Linked DNA regions of Homo sapiens. The protein of the gene in region 3 purifies or fractionates together with the protein of the main gene of each other region. This does not show direct contact. Each region holds a gene or a part of one and is shown on either strand. Other genes may lie near its edges.

What was found.
Region 1: the proteins of PMEL (region 3) and DAGLB purify together in Homo sapiens (affinity purification with mass spectrometry; 2 studies listed by BioGRID and IntAct, with this or other methods). This does not show direct contact.
Region 2: the proteins of PMEL (region 3) and MTNAP1 purify together in Homo sapiens (affinity purification with mass spectrometry; 2 studies listed by BioGRID and IntAct, with this or other methods). This does not show direct contact.
Region 4: the proteins of PMEL (region 3) and SERPINE2 purify together in Homo sapiens (affinity purification with mass spectrometry; 2 studies listed by BioGRID and IntAct, with this or other methods). This does not show direct contact.
Region 5: the proteins of PMEL (region 3) and INTS7 purify together in Homo sapiens (affinity purification with mass spectrometry; 2 studies listed by BioGRID and IntAct, with this or other methods). This does not show direct contact.
Region 6: the proteins of PMEL (region 3) and CGRRF1 purify together in Homo sapiens (affinity purification with mass spectrometry; 2 studies listed by BioGRID and IntAct, with this or other methods). This does not show direct contact.
Region 7: the proteins of PMEL (region 3) and TMTC4 purify together in Homo sapiens (affinity purification with mass spectrometry; 2 studies listed by BioGRID and IntAct, with this or other methods). This does not show direct contact.

The regions. Positions count from the first base shown.
Region 1 is NC_000007.14:6,409,955-6,413,454, forward strand, and holds part of DAGLB (diacylglycerol lipase-beta), read right to left. Parts: intron 3,081-3,500; coding exon 3,012-3,080; intron 2,930-3,011; coding exon 2,857-2,929; intron 427-2,856; coding exon 176-426; intron 82-175; coding exon 1-81.
Region 2 is NC_000017.11:73,235,433-73,238,932, forward strand, and holds part of MTNAP1 (mitochondrial nucleoid-associated protein 1), read left to right. Parts: intron 1-43; 5' UTR 44-50; coding exon 51-1,563; coding exon of another isoform or gene 1,564-1,664; exon of another isoform or gene 1,665-3,206; intron 3,207-3,500. UniProt on the Homo sapiens protein: Critical regulator of mitochondrial DNA (mtDNA) abundance. Binds dsDNA throughout the mitochondrial genome without sequence specificity and controls mtDNA copy number by promoting its replication.
Region 3 is NC_000012.12:55,959,543-55,963,042, forward strand, and holds part of PMEL (melanocyte protein PMEL isoform 3 preproprotein), read right to left. Parts: intron 2,191-3,500; coding exon 2,080-2,190; intron 1,922-2,079; coding exon 1,775-1,921; intron 1-1,774. UniProt on the Homo sapiens protein: Forms physiological amyloids that play a central role in melanosome morphogenesis and pigmentation.
Region 4 is NC_000002.12:224,036,487-224,040,520, forward strand, and holds the start of SERPINE2 (glia-derived nexin isoform b precursor), read right to left. Parts: upstream 2,801-4,034; 5' UTR 2,613-2,800; intron 2,155-2,612; exon of another isoform or gene 2,018-2,154; coding exon of another isoform or gene 2,004-2,017; intron 1-2,003. UniProt on the Homo sapiens protein: Serine protease inhibitor with activity toward thrombin, trypsin, and urokinase. Promotes neurite extension by inhibiting thrombin. Binds heparin.
Region 5 is NC_000001.11:212,004,558-212,008,057, reverse strand, and holds part of INTS7 (integrator complex subunit 7), read left to right. Parts: intron 1-608; coding exon 609-808; intron 809-1,296; coding exon 1,297-1,419; intron 1,420-3,500. UniProt on the Homo sapiens protein: Component of the integrator complex, a multiprotein complex that terminates RNA polymerase II (Pol II) transcription in the promoter-proximal region of genes.
Region 6 is NC_000014.9:54,530,406-54,533,905, reverse strand, and holds part of CGRRF1 (cell growth regulator with RING finger domain protein 1), read right to left. Parts: intron 3,004-3,500; coding exon 2,856-3,003; intron 1-2,855. UniProt on the Homo sapiens protein: Able to inhibit growth in several cell lines.
Region 7 is NC_000013.11:100,668,296-100,671,795, reverse strand, and holds part of TMTC4 (protein O-mannosyl-transferase TMTC4), read left to right. Parts: intron 1-1,226; 5' UTR 1,227-1,433; coding exon 1,434-1,436; exon of another isoform or gene 1,437-1,513; intron 1,514-3,001; coding exon 3,002-3,217; intron 3,218-3,500. UniProt on the Homo sapiens protein: Transfers mannosyl residues to the hydroxyl group of serine or threonine residues.

The DNA.
Region 1 (3,500 bases), on a different chromosome or scaffold from region 3:
TTCGGACCTATGAGTATTTTGCTGAATTCCGCTTCGTGTGACCACTTGGCGCTATAGTGAGCAGCAGAGCAGCAGCCAAACCTGAAGCAGAAAAGGAGAGACAGCTCCCACGCGGCCCCAGGGCTGACCCCGCGCTGCTCCTGCCTGCCCACCACACCCACCACGCCGCACTCACCGCCCCGAGGCGCCCTCCTCCTGCAGGTGGATGATCCTGCCGGGAGGGTAGAGAGGGGGGTACTTGGGAGAAGAGTCCAGTGGGGAGTCGCTGGAGAAGCTGTAGGCCGGGGACCAGCGCGTCAGTAGGCTCTGCTCCCCCAGAAGAGGCTGTGTCAGGACTTCCTGGTCGCCCCCGTCCAGCTCCGTGGGCAAGTTGTTGGGGTTTCCTCCAAACAGTTCGTACCACAAACCGTGCAGCAAGATCTTGTACTGAGGGCGAGACCCAATCAGTAGAATGCTGTCACTCACCCTCTGTCACCCGAGACCTCCCGAAACACCAAGGCGGACCAGGCACAGGAATCTGCCCTTTGACCCAGAAACCCCGCTTGGAAGACTCCAGCAAAGATGCACCGGCGAGCTGTGCTGGGTGGCAGCCACCTCGGCTCAGGACAAGGCTCTATGCCTAGTCACAGATCATGAGTGTGGGCTCTCTCTTGGGCAGTAAAACCATCACACGTGGAGCAATATTAAAAACTAAGCCATACAGACTGTGAGGGATATTTCCCTTAATTATTTTCCGGCAATTCTGGAAATCAGCTTTACCCTTCCTTCCCTGAAAGGCATTAGATATTAATTTCTATGGGCTGGAGCGCAATGGCGTGATCTTGGCTCCACAATCTGCCTCCCGAATTCAAGCGATTCTCCTACCTCAGCCTACTGAGTAGCTCGGCTTACAGGCTCCTGCCACCATGCCCGGCTAATTTTTTGTATTTTTTTTTTTTTTTTTTTTTTGAGACGGAGTCTCACTCTGTTGCCCAGGCTGGAGTGCAGTGGCACAATCTTGGCTCTCTGCAAGCTCCGCCTCCCGGGTTCACGCCATTCTCCTGCCTCAGCCACCAGAGTAGCTGGGACTACAGGCACCCGCCACCGCACCCGGCTAATTTTTTGTATTTTTAATAGAGACGGGGTTTCACCGTGGTCTCTATCTCCTGACCTCGTGATCCACCCGCCTTGGCCTCCCAAAGTGCTGGGATTACAGGCGTGAGCCACCGCGCCCGGCCTAATTTTTTGTATTTTTAGTAGAGACGGGGTTTCTCCATGTTAGTCAGGCTGGTCTCGAACTCCCGACCTCAGGTGATCCACCCACCTCAGCCTCCCAAAGTGCTGGGATTACAGGCGTGAGCCACCGGGCCCGCCCTAGATACTAATTTCTAAAAAAAATTTTAGGCTGGGCACAGCAGTGGCTCACACCTGTAATCCCAGCACTTTGGGAGGTCAAGGCAAGCAGATTGCTTCAGCCCCGAAGTTTGAGACCAGCCTGGGCAACATGGTAAGACCCTGTCTCTACAAAAAATACAAAAATTAGCCAGGTGTGTTGGCGCATGCCTGTAGTGTAGCCCCAGCTACTCAGGAGGCTGAGGTGGGAGGATCAGTTGAACTTGGGAGGCTGCAATGTGCCGAGACTGCGCCACTGCACTCCAGCCTGGGTGACAAAGCGAGACCCTGTCTCAAAAAAGAAAAAACTGGGGGAGGTAATTGGTAAGGAGAAAAATTTAAATTGCGTTTCTTCTTTCTGATTAGGAACAAAACCATGAGAAAGGTCAGAAAACAAAGGGATTAAACAAGTAAAAATCATCTCTACCGACACTAAACAAAACCACCCTTGGCATACGTATTTTCAAATTTTTGTCAAAATTCATATATCTGTATCTCCTTGTCCCCACTCTCTGCCATGAGTCATATCTCTTAAGAATAATTTTTAAGTTTTTTTTCTTTTGAACTTTTCAATGGATATCTATCTTTATCGGCAGACAGAAATTTCTTCTTTTTGGAGACAGAGCCTCACTCTATCCAACAGGCTGGAGTGCGATCTTGGCTTATGCAACCTCGGCCTCCTGGGTTCAAGCGATTCTTCTGCCTCAGCCTACCAAGTAGCTGGGATTACAGGCACTCACCACCACCCCTGGCTCATTTTTGTATTTTTACTAGAGACGGGGTTTTGCCATGTCGACCACTCTGGTCTCGATCTCCTGACTCAGGTGATCTGCCTGCCTTAGCCTCCCAAAGGGCTGGGATTACAAGCGTGACCCACCGCGCCTGGCCAGCAGACATAAATTTCTACCACCATGTTAAAAAACCCTTGACGTGGACATATATCACCATTTTAATAACTGCATGATATCCACAGTGTAGATAAATGTGCCTGTACCTCTTAAGGTCTATTTGGCAGCCTTGCTTTCTAAGCTTTCGGACAACAAAGCCAAAAGGCATTAACAAACTGTTAGTCACAAGACAGGACTAAGAAGTTTGTCAGAAAGCAAAATCAAACAGTTCCTCCAGAGTATTTTCTTTTCTTTTTTTTTTTTTAGAATAGAGACAGGGTCTTGTTGTGTTGCCCAGGTTGGCCTCAAGGGATCCTCCTGCCTTGGCCTCCTGAGGTGCTGGGATTCCAGGCATACACCACTGCTCCCAGCCCAGATCCTGTTTCCTCCCTGTGACATTTCCCGCACTTGCTGCAGCCATTTGCTTTCTTAGACATCACAGAGTCCTAGCCCAGAATCTGATCAGATGGTGGAAGGAGAACTTCCAGCAACAGCATAGAGTGCCCTGCACTGAGGGTGCAATTCCTCCCGGCTCTCCACAGGATCTCAGGGACAGGCCCCGTGTCCTGCTGACCCTCTCAACAAGGCACCCGCTTACCTTGGGTTTATTGCAGTGCGCGACCACTCGCAAGATTCTTCTCTTCAGATCTTCCAAGTTGGTCACACTGAGCCTGTTTAGCAAAGGGGCACACTGAGGCTGGGACCTGGCACTCCCAACCCCCCAGCCCTGGGCACAGCACCAGGTGGGCTTACCTGGGAATCACATCCTTCCCCAGGACGAGTGACACGATGAAGCTCTGAGAATATTCCTGCAGAGCTTTGCTGAAATTCCAAACAGAGAGAGGATGTTAGCTTTACGATGACACTGCCCACAAGGGCTTCCATGAAAGAAATCAGTAACACTGAGGGGTTAGGTTCCCAGGCCTCAGCTCTGTTCTCTCTTCTCTAAAGGGAGGGTAGGGGAAACGTCAGTTATGGCAACTCACTGGCCAGATCCTACTAAAGCCACAATATGTGTTCAACAGAGACGCCCCGCAGCTAAAACCGCAAACTGGACACCAAGGCGGACCAAGCACATGGATCTGTCCTTTGACCCAGAAACCGCGCTTGGAAGACTCCATCAAAGATGCACTGGAGGCCGGGTGCAGTGGCTCACGCCTGTAATCCCAGCACTTTGGGAGGCCGAGGCAGGCGGATCACAAGGTCAGGAGATTGAAACCATCCTGGCTAACACGGTAAAAG
Region 2 (3,500 bases), on a different chromosome or scaffold from region 3:
ACAAACTATGTGCTTCTCATAATCTCACATTTACCTTTTTCAGGAATAGGATGAGTGATAATCCACCCAGAATGGAAGTGTGTCCTTACTGTAAGAAGCCATTTAAACGATTAAAATCCCACTTGCCATACTGTAAGATGATAGGACCAACCATACCTACTGATCAAAAAGTTTATCAGTCCAAGCCAGCTACACTCCCACGTGCTAAAAAGATGAAAGGACCAATCAAAGATTTAATTAAAGCTAAAGGGAAAGAGTTAGAGACAGAGAATGAAGAAAGAAATTCTAAGTTGGTGGTGGACAAACCAGAACAGACAGTGAAGACCTTTCCACTGCCAGCTGTTGGTTTGGAAAGAGCAGCTACTACAAAGGCAGATAAAGACATCAAGAATCCAATCCAACCATCCTTCAAAATGTTAAAAAATACTAAACCAATGACTACTTTCCAAGAAGAAACCAAGGCTCAGTTTTACGCATCAGAGAAAACCTCTCCTAAAAGAGAACTTGCCAAAGATTTGCCTAAATCAGGAGAAAGTCGATGTAATCCTTCAGAAGCTGGAGCGTCTTTACTGGTTGGCTCAATAGAACCTTCTTTGTCAAATCAAGATAGAAAATATTCCTCAACTCTACCTAATGATGTACAAACTACCTCTGGTGATCTCAAATTGGACAAAATTGATCCCCAAAGACAGGAACTTCTAGTAAAATTACTAGATGTGCCTACTGGTGATTGTCATATTTCTCCAAAGAATGTCAGTGATGGGGTTAAAAGGGTAAGAACATTATTAAGCAATGAGAGAGATTCCAAAGGCAGGGATCACCTCTCAGGAGTCCCTACTGATGTTACAGTTACTGAGACTCCAGAAAAGAACACAGAATCCCTCATTTTAAGCCTTAAAATGAGCTCATTAGGTAAAATCCAAGTCATGGAGAAACAAGAGAAAGGACTTACCCTGGGAGTAGAGACGTGTGGGAGCAAAGGAAATGCAGAGAAAAGTATGTCTGCAACAGAAAAGCAGGAACGGACTGTCATGAGCCATGGCTGTGAGAACTTCAACACCAGGGATTCAGTCACAGGAAAGGAGTCTCAAGGGGAAAGACCACATTTAAGTTTGTTCATTCCGAGGGAGACGACTTACCAGTTTCATTCTGTATCGCAGTCAAGTAGTCAAAGTCTTGCCTCTCTAGCTACAACATTTCTTCAAGAAAAGAAAGCAGAAGCCCAGAATCATCATTGTGTCCCTGATGTAAAGGCATTAATGGAGAGTCCCGAGGGACAGTTATCTCTGGAGCCCAAATCTGATAGTCAGTTCCAAGCATCACACACTGGGTGCCAGAGCCCTTTATGTTCAGCCCAGCGTCACACTCCTCAGAGCCCCTTCACCAATCATGCTGCAGCTGCTGGCAGGAAGACTCTTCGCAGCTGCATGGGGCTGGAGTGGTTTCCAGAGCTCTATCCTGGTTACCTTGGACTAGGGGTGTTGCCAGGGAAGCCTCAGTGTTGGAATGCAATGACCCAGAAGCCACAACTTATCAGTCCCCAGGGGGAAAGACTCTCACAAGGTAAACAAGCTTATTTTCAATTGCCATCTGTCCCATCCAAAATGCTCTCTCTGCCTTTTGAATTTATAAGGGTCAAAATACTAACATTTTCAGTCATTTAGTTTATTTTCACCTAGGCATGCCAGTAGACTGCATATAAAGTTGTCCTGAAAGAGGCTGGGTGTAGTGGCTCACACCTGTAATCTAAGCACTTTGGGAGGCTGAGGCCAAGGCAGGTGGATCACTTGAATTCAGGAGTTAAGACCAGCCTGGGCAACATGGTGAAACCCCATCTCTACTAAGGATACAAAAAATTAGCTGGGTGTGGTGGCGCACCTGTAGTCCCAGCTATTTGAGAGGCTAAAGTGGGAGATCACCTGATCCCGGAAAATCAGGGCTGCAGTGAGCCGAGTATGTGCCACTTCACTGCAGCCTGGGCGACGGGAATGAGACCCTGTCTCAAAAAAAAAAAATTGTCCTGAAAACATTACTTCTTGCTTCAGTGGTCAGTAGTGGTGGTTTATCCCTCTCTTTTTCTCTCCCCCAAGAGTTGAGGGTTACACTAGGGCAGGCTGGCGATACTGAAAGCAGTTGAGTTTCTGCCTTGAGAAGAGGCATGTCCAGTAGAAACTGGATGGGTAAACAGACTGGAGAAAAATATAAAGACTTGAAATTCAGCTAGATAGAATAAGCACTGTGTTCAGAATCCAGTCAGGACCAGGTTGTACAAGAAATAGGTTCTAAGTTTACAGGACAAGAAATAGGTTCTAGGTTTCAGGCAAATGCAACATCTAGGAATTTAGAGTAGCAAAGTAGGATGCAGGTGGTAGGACACAGGTAAAACTAGCCAGGTAAGACGGGCAGGCAAGGCAGATAAGTGGAAGTGGAGGCTCAGGAAATGAACAGTGAAGATCAAGGACCAGAAACGGAGGATGTGGCCAAAAACAAAAGAAAAAATGTAGGCCACAGAGACTAGGACCCAAGAATAAAACCAGTGATTGAGCCTGGAAACAGGAGAGATGAGGCGAGAAGGGCTTGGGGCGAAAGACTGAACGTTGAAACTCACCTTGATTATGAATCAAACTTCAGAAGCTTCCTAGAGGCTCCTTTTGCTGATGGCTGGAATCGGTTAACAGGAGGGAAGACCAAGGCCCAAGGAGCCAGGAAGTTCCTGACAGTCATTTGAAATATCTTTGCTTTTCTCTGCTGAATCTCATCTTTAGTTATGAGACCACCTCTCTAGTTAAAATACATAAAGTTTCTTAAGCTTTTCTAGGGGCAGGGTGATTGTAAAGTAGCATACCTGTCGTTTGTAAAGTAGCATACCTGTCGTGTGTAGTGGCCATTGGTGCTTTCATGCTTATTTTGACAGGAGACCTGTAACAACTCAGAATAGGTTTGCAAGAGAAAAACTGGTATTATCTCTTCCTAAAGGGAAATCATTTTCTTCTCTGGTAGATTTTGCAAATGATCTCATATTCACTAAACCTCTATTTGCCTGGTCTCAAAATGGATGTGTACTAAAAGCAGAACATTGCTAGCCCAAAGCTACATTTTCTTTAACTACCTTCTATAAACAGGCCTAACGTCTAGACCTTTTTGCACAAAGTTGTAGTCACAAAGTCAAGCCCCTTCTCCGTAATAAACACATTTAATTATATTAACATTTGTGTTGCTTTGTGGTTTTCAGAGTGCCTCCATCTGTATTTTTTTTATTTTGGGCACAAGGTGGACAGAGAGGTGGGCAGAGTGAATTTATCCTATTTTGTGGATGATGAAACAGGCACAGAGAGCATAAGTGATTTGTCCAAGTTTGTGTTGCCAATAAATAGTAGAGCTGCAAGGAGAACCTAGTTTCCTGAGGCCTAGTTTAATCTTTTCCACTAAACCATGTTGTAGAAAATACACCATAACTAAAACCATGTTTGTTATAGTGCCATACTTTTCTGTGTGTGTGT
Region 3 (3,500 bases):
ACCTGTAATCCTAGCACTTTGGGAGTCTGAAGCGGTTAAATCACCTGAGGTCAGGAGTTCAAGACCAGCCTGGCCAACATGGTAAAACCCTGTCTCTACTAAAAATACAAAAATTAGCCAGGCGTGCTGGCGGAAGCCTATAATCCCAGCTACCCAGGAGGCTGAGGCAGGAGAATCGCTGGAACCTGGGAGGTGGAGGCTGCAGTGAGCCAAGATCGCACCACTGCACTCCAGCCTGAGCGACACAGCGAGACTCTGTCTCAAAAATAAATACATAAATAAATAACAGCACTAGATAGCATTTATTTAGCCTTTACTGTAGGCTAGAGCAGACACTACATTAAGTACTTTACACATATTATCACATTCTAATCCTTACAACAATCCTTTTATCTTCGGAAATGGAAACACAGTGAGGTGGGCAGATCACTTGATCTCAGGAGTTTGAGTCATCCTGGATAACATGGTGAAACCCCGTCTCTACTAAAAATACAAAAGAATTAGCCGGGCATGGTGACATGCGCCTGTATCAGCTACTCGGGAGGCTACTCCCAGCTACTCAGGAGGCTGAGGCGGAAGGATCACTTGAACCCAGGAGGCAGAGGTTGCAGTGAGCTGAGATCCTGCCACTGCACTCCAGCCTGAGCGACACAGCCAGACTCTGTCTCAAAAAAAAAAAAAAAGAAAAGAAAAGAAAAGAAAAGAAAAAAAAAGAAATGGAAACACAAAACAAGTAACTTGCCCAAGGTCACATATCAAGGACAAGTTTAAATATAGGTCTGTTCAACTTCTAGGTCCCCTGAATTCTGCTGTCCTCCACTTTAGGGACTGTAATTTTCTTTTTTCTTTTTGAGACAGGGTCTCACTCTGTCACCCAGGCTGAAGTACAGTGGCGTGATCATGCAGTCTCGACCTCCCAGGCTCATGATCCTCCCACCTGAGACTGCTAAGTAGCAGGGACTACAACTGTAATTTTCTTTTCTTTTTGCTTTCTGTTTTTTTTTTTTTTTTTTTTTTTGAAATGGAGTCTCGCTCTGTCGCCCAGGCTGGAGTGCAGTGGCATGATCTCGGTTCACTGCAAGCTCCACCTCCTGGGTTCACGCCATTCTCCTGTCTCAGCCTCCCAAGTAGCTGGGACTACATGCGCCTGCCACCACGCCCGGCTAATTTTTTGTATTTTTTTTTTAGTAGAGACAGGGTTTCACCGTGTTAGCCAGGATGGTCTGGATCTCCTGACCTCGTGATCCGCCCGCCTCGGCCTCCCGAAGTGCTGCGATTACAGGCGTGAGCCACCGCGCCCGGCCTTCTCTGTGTTTTTAAATTTTAACTACAATGAGTATGTATTACACATATAACTTGTTTTAAAAATTAAAGGAGGAGGCCGGGTGCGATGGCTCACGCCTGTAATCCCAGAACTTTGGGAGGCCGAGGCGGGCGGATCACAAGGTCAGGAGATGGAGACTATACTGGCTAACACGGTGAAACCCTGTCTCTACTAAAAATACAAAAAAAATTAGCCGGTCATGGTGGCAGGCGCCTGTAGTCCCAGCTACTCGGGAGGCTGAGGCAGGAGAATGGCGTGAACCCGGGAGGCAGAGCTTGCAGTGAGCCGAGATTGCGCCACTGCACTCCAGCCTGGGCGACAGAGCGAGACTCCGTCTCAAAAAAGAAAAAAAAAAAAAAGTAGAGAAGGAAGGGGCATTCCCTGAGCTCACTGGGCATACCAGGGAACCTGAGCCCTAGGAATAAGGACCTAGAATAGAGAAGTACTCACCATTGATGATGGTATTGTTGACCCAGATAACCTGCCCATCTGGCAATACCTTTTGGCTTCCAGGGAAGTTCAAGGCAATAGAGAAGGAGGCATTTGCACCAATCAGTGTAGGCCCATCATTACTGACCTTGAGGGACACTTGACCACCTGGGAAGGAAAGCTACATTAGCTGGGACTCCTGGGCTTCCCCTCCCTGTATACGTTTCCCCTCCTTTTCTTCCCAAGCTACACTCGATGCAGTTCAGCTTGCTTTTTTCCTCATCCCACTCCCACCATGCCCTCCCCTGGAACTTCCAAGTTCCTACCTCTCCAGCAGTCAAGTCTCTGGGCTTCTGTCCACTCTGGATACAGCTGCCTGTTCCAGGCTTTGGTTCTGAGTTGCCTTGAGACACCAAGCCAGTCCTGGTTTCTGGGTACTAAAAGGAATGTGCCATGAAGGGCCCTAGGATCCTTTCAGTTCCTTCTCAGGGATAACACTCTATTCATGTCACTCCATTCATTCTCACATTCGAAGTGCATTTTTTTTTTTTTTTTTTTGAGATGGAGTTTCGCTCTTGTTGCCCAGGCTGGAGTGCAATGGCATGATCTCGGCTCATTGCAACCTCTGTCTCCTGGGTTCAAGCGATTCTCCTGCCTCAGCCTCCTGAGTAGCTGGGATTACAGGCATGTGCCACCATGCCAGGCTAATTTTGTATTTTTAGTAGAGATGGGGTTTCTCCATGTTGGTTGGTCTGGTCTCGAACTCCCGACCTTAGGTGATCTGCCTGCTTTGGCCTCCCAAAGTGCTGGGATTACAGGCGTGAGCCACTGCGCCCGGCTGAAGTGCATTTTTAAAACTCATTTATTTGGCCGGGTGTGGTGGCTCACACCTGTAATCCCAGTACTTTGGGAGGCTGAGGCGGGTGGATCATGAGGTCAAGAGATAGAGACCATCCTGGCCAACATGGGGAAACCCTGTCTCTACTAAAAATACAAAATTAGCCGGGCATGGTGGTGCGCACCTGTAGTTCCAGCTACTTGGGAGGCTGAGGCAGGAGAATTGCTTGAACCCGGGAGGCAGAGGTTGCAGTGAGCTGAGATTCTGAGATTGCACCAGTGTACTCCAGCTGGCGATAGAGTAAGACTCCATCTCAAAAAAAAAAAAAAAAAAAAAAACACAAAAAACCCCTTATTTATTTGTTTATTTATTTATTATTACTCTTTTTTTTTTTTTTTTTTTTTTTTTGAGATGGAGTCTCGCTCTGCCCCCTAGGCTGGAATGCAGTGGCGTGATCTTGGCTCACTATAGCCTCCGCTTCCTGGATTCAAGCAATTCTCGTTCCTCAGCCTCCCAAGTAGCTGGGACTACAGGCACCCACCACCACACCCAACTAATTTTTGTATTTTTAGTTTCGCCATGTTTCATGGTTTCTCCATGTTGGCCAGGTTTGTCTCAAACTCCTGACCTCAAGTGATCCAACCGCTTCGGCCTCCCAAAGTGCTGGGATTATAGGCGTGAGCCACTGCGCCTCGCCTGTTTTGTTTTAAATCAAGACATAATTCACATACCATAAAATTTACTTTTAGCCAGGCATGGTGGCTCACATCTGTAATCCCAGCACTTTGAGAGGCCGAGGCAGGTGGATCACAAGGTCAGGAGTTCGAGACCAGCCTGGCCAAGTGAAACCCTGTCTCTACTAAAAATACAAAAATTAGCCGGGCGTGGTAGTGGGCACCTGTAGTTCCA
Region 4 (4,034 bases), on a different chromosome or scaffold from region 3:
GCGGGGAGTGAGGTAGGGGAGGGATAGCATTAGGAGAAATACCTAATGTGATGGGTTGATGGGTGCAGCAAACCACCATGGCACGTGTATACCTATGTAACAAACCTGCACGTTCTGCACATGTACCCCAGAGCTTAAAGCATATTAATAAAAATTAAAAAAAAAAAAAAAAGATTGCTTGTTCAGGAAGTCACAGGCCTTGAACTTTGAGGAGACTCTGGCCAGCTTGCAAAGAGCTGAACAGGAAGGGCAGACCAGTTTAAGAAGCCTGGAGAGACGTGGTTGTCACTACAGGTGAGCTGAGGATGCAGGGACAAGGGAGGTTAAGGCATTCTTAAAATACTACTAAAAAAGAAAAAAGCTCACAGGGAGAGACTGAAGATAAAAGTAAGAAAAGGGAGTAACACTCACAAGGAGAGAGAGGCACTGGGAGTTGGGATTCAGGACACAGCTGGAGACATTAGTCACTGCCCCAAGGAGGCCATCTCTCTATATTTCTCTAAGTTCTCAGTCTAACTTGATTTTTCTTTATAATTCTACCTTATTCATTTATCATACATTTTACAACATATTATGTTTGCTTTTAGTTGGTTTTCTCCCACAAGAATGACAGTTTCAAGCGAGCAAGGATCTGCTCTATTTACCACCTATGAGTATCCAACAAAGTACCCAGACACAGTAGATGCTTAAGAAGATTTATTGGATGACTGGGTAAACACAGAAAAGTCTGTACAGGGGAGATGGGGGAGGACGTGAGGAGATACTTATGACCTCTATTCTCCTGGTAGAATGGGCTACAAAGTCACCTGCCAAACCCGCAAGAGGAAAAGCATTGGAGATCGCTTGCATTGAAGATTACAGTGGGAGTCCGGTTTGCAACCCGGAAGGAAGGAGCTTGCGGGTTGGAGGCACTAAGAGTTTTCAGAAGTTGAGCATCTCAAGAGAGGGCAAGACTTGGAGGTACTTAGAGGACTTGGTAGCTGGAGTACATGGAAGACACTGGATTTGAGACAGTCAAGGAAGTGCGCATCTAGAGCGTCCCCCACATGGACTTTAGGTCTAGAGGAGGAGAAATAGCCCAAGAGCCAAAGTCCCCATGCGATGGGAAAAGAACTGGCTGGAAGAGGACAGCAAGGCTGAGATGCACCCAGGGACGTGGCCAGGTCACCACCTCATTTCCAACTCTACCACCTCAAACAATCTCTGACTGGTATTTAATCACCCTTGTGTGGAAGTGAAAATTAGCTTTTTTTGGAGACAGTACTTTTAAAATTAAACTAATATGAAGTTCATGGGACACGGAAATTTTCTGCATAGATTCATTTTTGTTTTTAGAATAAAATACGATGACATTTTCATGACCTTCAGTAATTGCCCTGCATGGTACGATATTTTCAAACATTATTTTAACAAAGAATCAAAATTTGGGGGTTAAAAGAAACCTTAGATTACTCAGGTTAGTACCTTCATTTGCATAGCCAAAAATTTTTCTATTGAAATACTGCAAATAGCAAATAAGTACTGATTTAGACCTTCAGATAGTGTTGAAACTGTCTTCAATTTTCGAAGTGTGGTTTAGGATATACAAATTAGCAATGTTGACAATTCTTCCAGTTATCTGTGCTCAAGTTTTGATATAAAATCTTCAAAGTACACAATTATCACATATATTGTTCCACAACAATTCAGACAAATAAACGGCTTCTTGGCTTGAAAGAGGAAGTCACACCTTCGAACACCTTTTTATGCTGATGCTAAATATAAGAACGTCCCCTGCAAAGTAGCCAAAGCAAGACAGCAGCATTCGAGATTTCTCCAGAGACACACACACAAAGAATGTGTTTCGTTCATTAAAACACTAAAACCTTCAACAGCATCTTCCATAATACCTGAAGGTGGAGTGCTGTCTTATGTAATAGAAGCCTTCCTTCCCCGCTCAGTTTGTGGACACATTAAATGCCTAATTCCTTCCAGAATTTCTGAGTACCGTACTTTCATTTTACCTGCAGTCACTCATCCGCCTCGCAACTCCCGTTTCTACAGATGATGAAAATAGCAAAGACCTGCTCGCTCGGGTTAAATCGGCTGCCAGAGGCCAAGTTAAAGGCTTTCCCCACACCGCGCGTCACCTCCCTCTGCCCAGGCAGAGGTAACAAGTAAGAGTGCGCCAGTCTCTCCCCATCCGGCGGCGCGCAGCCTAAGTCCGGGGTAGGGGTTGCCGGCGAGCAGCTGGAAACCTCAGGTTCAGGGTCAGGGCCGGCTCGGATGGCCGGGCAGGAGCCACGCCGGCCCCGGTGCTCCCAGCTGCGGGTATCACTGGACGCCACCCCGGGGCGGCCCCGCCTTGCCCTGCCCGGGTCCCGCTCGGGGCTCCCGGCGGGCGGGACCGGGATGCCCGGCGAGCACCCAGCCCCGGCCAAGGCGGCCCGCGGGAGGCTGAGAAAGTTCTCTGCTCCCCGACGTCGGCGCCCCAGGGTCCCGCTGGCCCCGCAGCTTCCCGGCCGGGCGCAAGGTCAGGGAGCAGGGCCGGTGGCGCGCGGAGCCCCGGGGAGCGTCCCCCGCCGAGGGCAGCGCCGGCCGCGCCCGGGACTCACCGCGCAGCCTGTACTCACCGCGCTCGCTGGATCCCCAGGGGGCGGCCGCGGAGGGCGGTGCGGCCGCAACCGGAGCGGGAGCCTGGTCTCGGCGGCGCGGGGAGTCGGAGGACGCAGCCAAGCGGCGGCGGCGAGGAGGGTCACAGCCGGAAAGAGGCAGCGGTGGCGCCTGCAGACGCCGCGCAGCCCGGGCAGCCCCACAGCGCAAGCTGGCTGCCGCGGCGGCGGGGGCTTTATCGGCGGCGCCGCGCGGGCCCCCGCCCCTTCCTGCCGCCCCCGCCCCCGGCCCGCCTTGCCCCGCCTTCCCGCCGCCTCCTTTGTGTGGCCGCGGGCCGCAGCGTCCCCGCGCCCGGCCTCCAGGACGCCCCCTCTCCGCCTGCGACTTCTCGGATGCCGCCCCGCCAGGGGTCCGTGTCGTGGGGCTGCGCCCGGAACGCGCCGGGGAGACGCGCAGACCCCGAGGTGCGGCGCCAGCCCGGGCCCAGCTGCACGTGGGTCTCCCGGATGGGGGTGTGTGAGGTGGCGGGGGGAATACCAGGGCTCGTACCGCGTCCCTGAGACGCAGGGCATGTCGTCTTGGCTGCCCCCTGGAAGAGACAGAGGGCGCCCTGAGACAGCGCTCAGTCCTCCGGGTGATGGGGAAACGGTGCCAGGACGCGGCCGGGAAGGGGCAGATAACCCCTCGAGGCGTTTTGCAGGGTGTCCTAGAGCTGACTTCTCCCTGCCTAGGGGACAGAGGAACGGCGGCAAGTCGCCTTAGGCAAATACAGACGAGGGGAACCAGAAAACTGGATTCCCGGCTATGGTGATAGCATGAGGTACCCGCAGCGTCCTGGGAACCCAGCCCTTCTCAGCCGGTAACCACTGCTGCTGGGACCCGGTGCGCGATAGACAGGCACATACCCCAGGGGCCTGCAACAAATGACCGTCCCGCTCCGGGCTCTGTTACCTGGACCTCTCTTAGTTGGTTCCTCCTTTGCCTCTAGTTAGGTTTCTGGGGACCCAAGGACCCAACTTTAATGACAGTAATTTATGTAGCCGTTAGTGTAGAATCGTCGCTAGCAGGCAGACGGCCCCAACAGCGAGGAAGAAATGTAAATCTCCCTATACACAGCCCTGGATTAAGGGTACAGCTACTGATGAGAGCCACTTGGAAGATCAGCCTGCAGTCACCCCTTGGCATGCAGGTGGCCGTGCCAGAGTGTGCACGTGTGTGTTGGGGAAGGGGTTGCTCTGAAAAGTGTAAAATCTGGACCAGCCTAAGGGTGTTCTCAGTCTCTCATAGAGGGAAACAGGCTATGGGAGGCTTGGTCCTAAAATAAGGAGCAAACAGTCTACAAAAATGAGCATCTGTTTAATTATTTTACAGTCATACCAAATATTTATATTCAGTTACAGGGTAACTTTCTTATTCTCTGTGCCTGAAATGCTTTTTGTCCC
Region 5 (3,500 bases), on a different chromosome or scaffold from region 3:
AAATTTGTGTTCACCATGACCACAAAGCCATGCCATAGAGAAAAGATTTGTTGGTTTCGCTCCACTGTTGACAGGAAAACGTGGATTAGGGTTAGTCTTCATGGATCCAGTCGTGTATGCAATAAAGAAAGGCATTTACTACACAAAGTTCAGAGGACTTCGAAACCATTCTACACACAGTTTATTCACATCCTGATTATGATTTAGTTGTTGAAGGAAATAATTAAAATCATAAGTATAATCAGACTGTAGCCATCAAGTGTGTGTGTTTGTGTATATATATGTATATGTGTATGTATAATTTTTTTACTATGACAATGAGAGGAAATAGGCAGCAAATATGACTTTGCTTTCTACTGTGCTTTTTAAAGGCAGTTTTTATTATCAGCATGTAGTTTTATAATCATTGAAAAGTTAATGTCAAGATAAATACTTAGGAAAAAATATTGAATTTATCAATTGGTTCTAGTATAATCTTTAATGTTATAAATATATTAGTATACTGTGTTTTTCAAGTGCAATTTTGCTAAATGAGTCACAGCTTTTAAATCTGGAATATTATTAAGGATGGTGATCACAAATACCTTGAGAATTATTTTTGTGTCTAGGTTTAGCGACACCAGTAGACTTGAAGCTAAAATTGATACCCATTCTACAGCACATGCACCATGATGCAATCTTGGCTTCCAGTGCTCGTCAGCTTTTACAACAGCTGGTCACATCCTATCCGTCCACCAAAATGGTGATTGTGTCTTTGCACACTTTCACTCTGCTTGCAGCGTCATCTTTGGTTGATACACCTAAGCAGGTAATTTCAATTTTCTTTAAACTGCCTATCTTTGGTAAACTTACATATTAAATATATGATTAGAAATAAGAAAGTGGCCCACAAGTCTTGAGGACATTAAGGTTCTTTTCTCTAATAAAGGTCAGATTAATTTGCTTTTGCTTGCTTTTTTATTCTCTCTGTTCACAGTACTGATTGTTGGGAGCCCTTGAGGAAAATGAGATGTTATGGAGTACATGGCTGGGTGTGAAGTTGGCCGTATAAAAAAAAAAAAAGAAAGGATTGAGTATCTGTAAAATGCCAGGGCCTGTGCTAAAACTTTAAAGTTAAATGGTAGTATTTTACAAACATGGAGAAAGAGGCCCAAATGTGGGCACATAGCTAGTGAGTGACAGGGCTCTGATTTGAAGTGAGTCCTGTCCCTTTATAAGTTTCACTAAACTACACTGCATTTCTAATGATCATTTCAGTTACAGTATTGTTTATGGAGTGACTTATTTCCTTTATAGATTCAGCTTCTGTTGCAGTATTTGAAGAATGATCCCAGGAAGGCAGTAAAGAGACTTGCTATTCAAGATCTGAAATTACTTGCTAATAAAACACCACATACTTGGAGTAGGGAGAATATTCAGGTATGTAGAACTTGTAACATTTTATATAGAAAAAATAATATAACATTATAATATAGTAAAATGTTTTGCATTTTTATATTGTCTTTGTCATCTTCTAAGTGGTTGAATATGAAAAACTTCTAAAAGCATTGTTGATGTTTGTGGCAGTTATTTTATAAGTGGCACAATAAATACATAAAACTTCTATACTTCAATGTTTGTTTTAGTCAGTGAAACTTGCCACTCAGTTGCTTGTTCATTCTCCCATAGTGGCACTAAGGCTAATTGAGAAGCCCAATTACATTGGTTTGGTTTTTTTATTCTTGTATTTTTCAGTCAATTTGGGGAGAAAAATTTAGGGGCTGAATGTTATCTGTAATGGAGGTAGGGCTGGATGGGCAACTTGGGAAATATATTTCTCTCTTCCTGGAGAGCTGAAGACATTCCTAAGTCTTCTTTTGTAAACAGAAGAGCAGATCTCACTCTTTAGACTTTTAATGTGCATCTTTGACACCATCTCTTACCATCTGTTAGGTTAAATTAATATTTTATGTTTATTTTTTTCTCAAAATAGAACCCTGTTTGTTTACCCATTACCGATAGAAATAACACCATTTTGCAAATAATGCTATTTAAAATGGAACGGTAGTTTTTATCTCTCAGCTTCATCATGACTCCAGTGGATTAAAAATCTTTGAATTTCAGATTATTAAAACTAAACTGCTGTGTTTGTTTTTCTGTTTGTTTGTTTGTTGTTTTCTAAACATCTTTTAATTTACTATATTATGATTTGATAGTCACAGATATCCCAAGATAAGGGCAGTTGTTAAATCTGCATTTAATAGATAAGCAGTTAGGGTTCAGAGAGACTTAATATGCTTAAGAGAGCATCTTAAGAGAAGTAAATTAAGAATTTAATTAAGAGAGCTTCTGTCCTCTGATCCCTAGTCTTATTGCTTTTTCTACTAAATAATGCTATCTTTCCAAGAAGAGAATGTGCCCAGCCACTTTAGTCATTTTAGAGAATTTGTACAAAGAACCAAACCCAGTTATTTAGAAAGATGAGTGAGAAGCACAGTATTATTCCTTCTCATTTTTTTCTTATTGTGAGATAGATCATACATACAGAAAAGTATGTAAAATATATAAATAGTTTAAATACCTTTAAGTGAGAAAAGTATGTAAAATGTATAAATATTTTAAATACTTTTAAGTGAAAACCCATGCAACTACCATCCAGCTAGAAATAGAACATTACAGGATCACAGAACCCTGCCTCCTTCCCTTGCGTGGTCCTTCCTGGTTGAAACTTTACACCTTCCAAAAGCAAACCACCATTTTGACTTTCATGATAATAATTTCTTTGCTCTTCTTTTACCTTCTTCACATGTCTTCCTAAAGAATACTGTTTAGCTTTGTTTTTGTTTCTTTTGCTCAGCATTACACTGGTGAGACTCATCCATGTCTTTCCCCTTTAATTGTAATGTACTATCCCATTGTATGAATGTATCACAGTTTATTTGCTCTCGATGGGTTATTTCCGCATGGGCCTATTGCAAACAGTGCAGAACATTCTTCTGTTTGTCTCCCAGTTCACACACGCAAATTTCTTTAGAGTGTATACCTGGGAATGAAATTTCTGACTTACAGAAAATGCGTATCTTCAGTTTTAACAGATGATGTCAAACTGTTTTCCAAAGTCAATGAACCAGTTTACATTCCTGCTGTGTATGAGGGCGTCCATTAATCACATCCGTACCAACACATAGAATTATCAGACTTACGTTTTTTACCAGTTTAGAAGTTGTACTTTTTATGTGTAGCTCCTTGATTATTAAAGAAATTGAACACCTTTTTAATATGTTTATTGACCATTTGGATTTTCTCTTATGACATGGCTATTCAGGTCTCTTGCCTATTTTTCTGTTGATTCATAGTTATTTTTTATATATTTGGAATACTCATACTTTGTTAGTCCTTGACAATTCTATATAAATTTCAGAATCAGCTTGTCAAATTTAACAGTTTGATTGGGATTACACTGAATATAAAGATTAGTTTGTAAGAAATTGGTAACTTTATAATATTGTCTTCCAGTGCAT
Region 6 (3,500 bases), on a different chromosome or scaffold from region 3:
TTTGGATGATAGAATACAGATTATTATACTTCTCTCCTTTTGGCTTATCTACACTTTCTAATTTTTTTTCCTGCCACAAATGTATTATTTGAATAATACTGAAAAAAAGCCAATGTAATTAACTAAAAATGAAAAAATTTTAAAGTCAAAATTTTGTAGTAACAATTCCTGCTTTCCTTTTTTTAATCTAAAACAACAAAGTGGTTCCTAACTGTACTACCTAAATATAATTCTTTGCTGTTAAAATAAAAATGATTTTATTAATAAATTTTTTAAAAAAATATAGTCCCTGACACGCACATACAATACTGAAAAAACACATATGAAAAAGAAATAGGAAATGGTCCATTTGCTTTTAAAATTATAAACAGAGAACATTAATACAAAATACACTAATAAATATATTTGAGTGCCAATATTACCCCCAATCTAAGAAATAAGACGAGAAGCAAGGATTAACAGGAAAAAAGGAGGGAGCCCACAGATGAGAATAAAAGACATTCAAAAGGACCCAGACACAGAGACATACACAAAGCACAAGAGAAGATGGCTGTTAACCCTTGGGAGACACTCAGGCTTCCCTATGGGAACAAGCCTCCCACAACTACAGCTGGGCCACACAGTCTTCATCCAGTGTGATCAGGGACCTGAGAGCAAACTCTTCTCTGGCCTAAAAGGCCACTGAACTGAAAACACACACACAAAAATGGTTAAAATGGTAAACTTTATATATAAAATATATATATTTTACCACACAGATACACAATCACTCCCTGTTTGGACAGGGGAAGAAAGTTAGAAAAAAAAAAAGACCCTGAGCACCTAGAGAGCACTATCAGTGAAGGGAAAAGGAATGCAATGGGGAAGCTGGGAGGGAAAATGACTGCGATCTGATCCTTTTGTGCTGAACCAAAGGAAAAAGGAGAACAGAACCCAAGAAACTCAGCAGAGATGGGGCACACAGTGGGGGCAGAAGGGCTTCCTTGCCCAAGTACACAGGGTCAAGAACAAAGAAGCTAGAAATAGGAGACACCAATTTAACAGGTTTTATTTATCTCTAACTGAAACTGAGAGAAAGGAGGGAGGAAGCCAGAAGGCCTCTCATGCACGCTAAGGTGCATGGGATGTACAGCTAAGGTGTTTCGCTGTCAAGCTCTATGAGGCTCATTAACATTGTCTAGTATGACTTTTTTTTTTTTTTTTTACTTATCAAATCTTTATTGAACCCCTATTATATCCTAGGCACTGTACTAGGTTCTGGAAATACACTACTGCTGGTATGACTTTTGTATTTTGTATTTTTATTGTATATATTTAAGGTGTACAACAGGATGTTTTGATATATATATACCTAGTGAAATGGTTACTATTATAATGCAAATTACGCATCATCTTACACAGTTACTTCCACTTTTTTTGCATGTGGCAAGAGCACCAAAAATCCCAAAAGCAATACCACATTAACTATAGTCTTTATGCTGTACATTAGATCTCTAGACCTGTTCATTTTATGTATCTGTAACTTTGTCTCTAGTGACCTACATATCCCCATTTCCTTCCCCTCTGCTCCCCATGACTTGGAAAAAATAAGCTGACCTCAGCTCAATGGAACTTCAGTTTGAAAATATTAAAAACCAAAAACCTAGGTGCTTAACTGCAAATGAGTAAGAAGGGTCTAGATTTCCCAAAGAGTCTTTACCTTCCAAAGCTCAATGTACACTTGTTGCAGGAAGATATTCCTGCTAAAAAAAATAAACTCAAAAAACAAAAACAAACAAACACACACAAAAAGCTCAGAGTCAAGCTCTTGTTCCATCTCTTACTGCCTGAATGACTGGGATTTTTCTTGACTCTGTTTCAGTCTGTGAAAGGAGAATATTTGCCCTGTCCTAAGAAACCAGGTTGTTAGAAGAAAAAAATAAGTTCATGTTTGTGAACGTACTTTGCATATTACGAATATCACAAAACAATGTTACCATATGTTTATTAATGAATAATCTATATTAAATACTTCAGAAAAGTAGTCAATTGTGTGTAAGGACATTTTTACCATGATACAATTTCATCAAAAGTTTATTTCATGTCTAAGTTTCTATTATACTCAGATGATTGTCAAAGTTTCAGTCCTCTTAGATCTCTAAGATACTTTTAACTTCCTAATAGGAATCAACTATCAGACTGAAAAAATAATTAGCACATAATGAGGAAAGGAGATTATTATAATTACTGAAAATACAGGGACCAGACATATAAGATATAGGTGCAGCAGGGACTTTGATGGAAACAAGGTGACTGCAAGCAGGCAAAAAAAGAGTGGATACTATCTTAAAATTGAGCACTTTCGATCATTATTGTGCTTATTTATTCACTGCTAAACATGTTCAGAATAAACATGCTTCCCAACAGACTGTTTCTATACAGCAAATATGACAGAATACAGAATGATGAAATTAACTTAATTCAACCATTATATATCTTTTATTTCCCAAATAAAGTCATATTACTGTGATCCATAAGGCAAAAAATGAGTCATACTCTGAAGGTACTGTTACACATATAAAAACTAAATAGGTGTATACAACCAAATAGGTGTTAATGATGAAACTAACTTAATTCAACCATTATATATCTTTTATTTTCCAAATAAAGTCATATTACTGTGACCCATAAGGCAAGAAATGAGTCATAATCTGAAGGTACTGTTTCACATATAAAAACCAAATAGGTATATAGTTGTTGTAGGCCAAATGCACATCCTCAGAAATTAAAATAAAACTTTTTCTATTTATCAAATAATGAAGAACCACCATTCAAATCACTTAAAGGTAATGCTTTCAAAATTTTCAATTACTTACAATATCATAAATTTCCCGGTCATCCTCATCAGCTAAGGTCAATAGCGCTACCAATGGATAGCGAGATCTGGGTACTGTACCAAAGTCTTCAATTTTAGTATCTCTTGGTAACTGGCAATATATTTCTTCTTTGCTATCCTTTTTAATACTTTTTGAAAATGTAAAGGTAAATTGCCACTATAACCATAAGAACAAAAATACACCAAAAATGATCAATAAGTTAGCAACACTTTATCCATAAGAAGTCTAATTTTCAGTGCTAATGGGTATATCAGATAAAAGGATACAAATACTGTTCCTGATAGAGACATTCACTCCACAGAGCATCTTCTAATGCTTGAGGAGTGCTTATTCTGAAGCAATAAACATGCTTCTAGTATACCAAAAATGATCAATAAGTTAGCAACACTTTATCCGTAAGAAGTCTAATTTTCAGTGCTAATGGGTATATCAGATGAAAGGATACAAATACTGTTCCTGATAGAGATATTCACTCCACAGAGCATCTTCTAATGCTTGGGGAGTGCTTATTCTGAAGCAATAAACATGCTTCTAGTATACCAAAAATGATCAATAAGTTAGCAACACTTTATCCATAAGAAGTCTAATTTTCAGTGCTAATGGGTATATCAGATGAAAGGATAC
Region 7 (3,500 bases), on a different chromosome or scaffold from region 3:
TGAGTATTTTCAGTGGCAGCAAAGAAGTGGGAGGCCTTGGAGAAAGGAGAAGGAGCCCCCTGAGATAGAGAAGCAGGGGAGTCACAGCAAGGAGGGGAGAGCCAGCCAGAACTGGGAAATGATGTAGGGGCAGGGGCGTTGGAGGTAGGCCAGGTTTCCTGCTGTCCCTGCAAGAGCAGAGGAGGAGATCATCTGAGATCCACTGAGTCAGCCATCCACTTGACTTCCCAAGAGTCTGGACCTGGCCTCCTACCAGGGCATCTCGTTGATGGTGTGGTCCACAGTCTGCCTTATATATCCTGGGGCTGTGGCTTGGAACATGATTATGCTTAGAACATATTGCTTAGAACACGTTTATGTTCTAAGCAATCTGAGGTACAGTCGCTAATTTAGGAGCACAAAGTATTTCCTGATTTAGTATTCTACTTAGAAGGCCATTTGAACCTTGACAAACGTTTGTGAAATAATTTTCAAATATTTGAGCCTGAAGCAGATAATATCCAGGCTCAGTGGCACACTCCTATAGTCCCAGCTACTTGGGAGACCGAGGCAGGAGGGTTACTTGTGCCCAAAAGTTGAAGCTAGTCTGGGCAACATAGCAAGACGCCATCTCCAAAAATATATTGCATGAGCCAATAAATTCACTATTGAAACAATAAAACAGATAACGTCAAAACCGGTTACATGACCTTTTGTCAGCTCATGACTCTATTGTGCATTTAAAATTGCTATAAATTATTTGTTTTCCTTCACATTTAATTTTCTAAAATTTCTCCCCATGTTAAATCATAGTATCTTCCTAACTATTCAGTATTTGGCTTTGTTGGGCTTTGTTGTTGTTTGAGACAGGGTCTCACTCTGTTGCCCATGCTGTAGAGCCGAGGTGTGATCTCAGCTCACTGCAGCCTGGAACTCCTGGGCTCAAGCAATACTCGCACCTCTCAGTCTCCTGAGTAGCTGGGACTGCAGGCATACGCCTCCACACTCAGCTAATTTTTGTATTTTTTTTTGTAGACACGGGGTTTCACCTTGTTGCCCAGGCTGGTCTCGAACCTCTGGGCTCAAGCCATCCACCGGCCTCGGCCTCCCAAAGTGCTGGGATTACAGGCGTGAGCCATTGCAACCAGCCTTGATTTGTTGTTTTTTAAGTAGCAGGAGTAATTTCTTTAGCTGAAATGTAAGCATAGAGGTTGGGGTCTGTGTGCTAACCTGTGTTGTGTTTGCAGTTGTAATTTAGATTCGAGAAGTGGTTTATCCTTTGACTGGAAAAGAAAAGTAGCTGCAGTATTCCCCCAGCACTTGCTGAGAGCATGCCGTATGCCAGGCTGTGAGGCTCGAGAGACAAGCAGTGGAAGAGTTGCGGCCTGTTTCATCTCTGGATTGTAAATCTGAGCCTCCTTCTGGCCCCTGGAAGGGGACAGCATCACCATGGAATGGTGTGTCCCGTTGCCTGTTGGATCTGTCTCCATCTTCACTCAGACAGAAGGCTATAGAAAGATGCCTGTGACTTCAGGTGGCCTATTTGGCTGGCTTCTTATTGATTCCATAATCTGGGGTATCCACTTAGAGATCCAGAAACAAATACATCCAAACTGCCTTCCCAATCAGGGGGCTGGAATTCTCTTTCATCTCAGCAGGAAAAGAACAGGGTCCAGGTCCCTTAGTAAAGACAGGAGCCTCGGTACCAATCAACCAGCTACTAAAAGGGATTTCCCACAGAAAATCATTCTGTGCCTCTGCTTTCAGCCTTCTGGAAGAAAGTATTAGTAATAGTAGCCGGCCTCCCCTGAGCCTTCATTACAGCCAGGCAGTGCTGGGAATCCTATTTAACCCTCATGACAACTCTAGAAGGTAGGCACTCTTACCATCCCCATTTTAGTGTTGAGGAAACAGGCCCAGAGAGGTCAAGTAAGTTGCCAGAGGTACCCCAGGTCAGAACCGAGCAGTCTTACCCAAACCTGATCCTGGTAAATCCAAAGAAAGCACCTGTCCAGGATGTGGTGGGAATGGGGACAGATAAAAAAGTGCGAGTTTGGGGGTAGGTTGAGATTTGTTTTGGCGAATTCCAAGGCGGGAAGCTGTTAGGCACCGCTGACCACTGGGCGTTAAGATGCTTTGCAGAGGGCCGCAGGGGGTGGGCTCAGAGAGGAAAGGGGTTGTGCACAGGACCGCACAACTAACACATGGCAAGGATGAGGCACAGGCATCCCCGGCGAGAAACATTATGCCCATTTGAAAGAAAAGTTCAAAATAGGATATATTTTTATCTTGACTCTTTCACCAGGATTGAAGGTCATATCCTCACACAGAATAGCCTCCCTTCCTTTCCTTTGTATGGCTCAGCCTTTTCTGGGACAAGATATTGTCCCCACCAGTCATTTCCTCTATCTGTCCTCTGTGTTGAGCCAGTAGCCTAGGAACCCAGCATTCGATCCTGTGCCCCGCCTTAGGATTTCTCTGTTCGACTCCCCTGTCTCTGTGTCAGAGTCTCAGCTCCCTGGCCTGTGTGCCTGAATGCTACAAATAGACCATAAGCTCTTTCAGAAGCAGGGTTGTGTTTTACACACGACCCTCTCCCCTGCCACACACACAGTGTGCTAAAACCCAACAATGACTATTTATTAATTTTTCTGGATTGGATGAGGTAGGATGGTAACTTTTTTTTTAAGCTTTGTAAACTGGTTCAAGGACGATTAAAAATGATTTGCCTTGTGGGGTTGATGAGGATACCATTACATTCGTATTTCTAAACGATATTCTGGCATCAGAAACCAAAGGGCATCTGATTTGATAGATCCTGTGGTCGGACCCAGGAATCTGCATGTGTCCCATGTGACTTTTCTGCCCACTAAAGTTTGGGAAGCACAGCTTCAAATTGTTACTGATCACATCCTATAAAATCATAGCATAAATGACTATCTAGCTCTTACTCACGGTGCCCACTGCAGAAACGGTCCTACCAGTGTTGATGAATATTTATACAGTGTTGTTTTTCCTGCAGATTCCTAACCAGCATAATGCTGGAGCCGGGAGCCACCAACCTGCAGTTTTCAGAATGGCCGTGTTGGACACTGATTTGGATCACATTCTTCCATCTTCTGTTCTTCCTCCATTCTGGGCTAAGTTAGTAGTGGGATCGGTTGCCATTGTGTGTTTTGCACGCAGCTATGATGGAGACTTTGTCTTTGATGACTCAGAAGCTATTGTTAACAATAAGGTTTGTATCTCAACTCTTTTCTGGTAAACTTAACTGCCCAACTGTGTCTCAGTAATCATCTAAGTATGTGTTGCATTGTTCTCTGTGGAATGTAGGTTAAGCATTGGCCTGGGCCCCGATGGTGCTCTCGATTTTTCTCTCTTTTCAACATCGCCTCCATGATTTAGTGCCTTTCTTATTGCTGGCACCAAGGTTCTGAACCCCTGCCTCAGCTCAGGCACTCCCCTCAAGAGCTCCAGTCCACATATGGATCAAAGAGGCCGTTATTCTAAGATTACAAGGC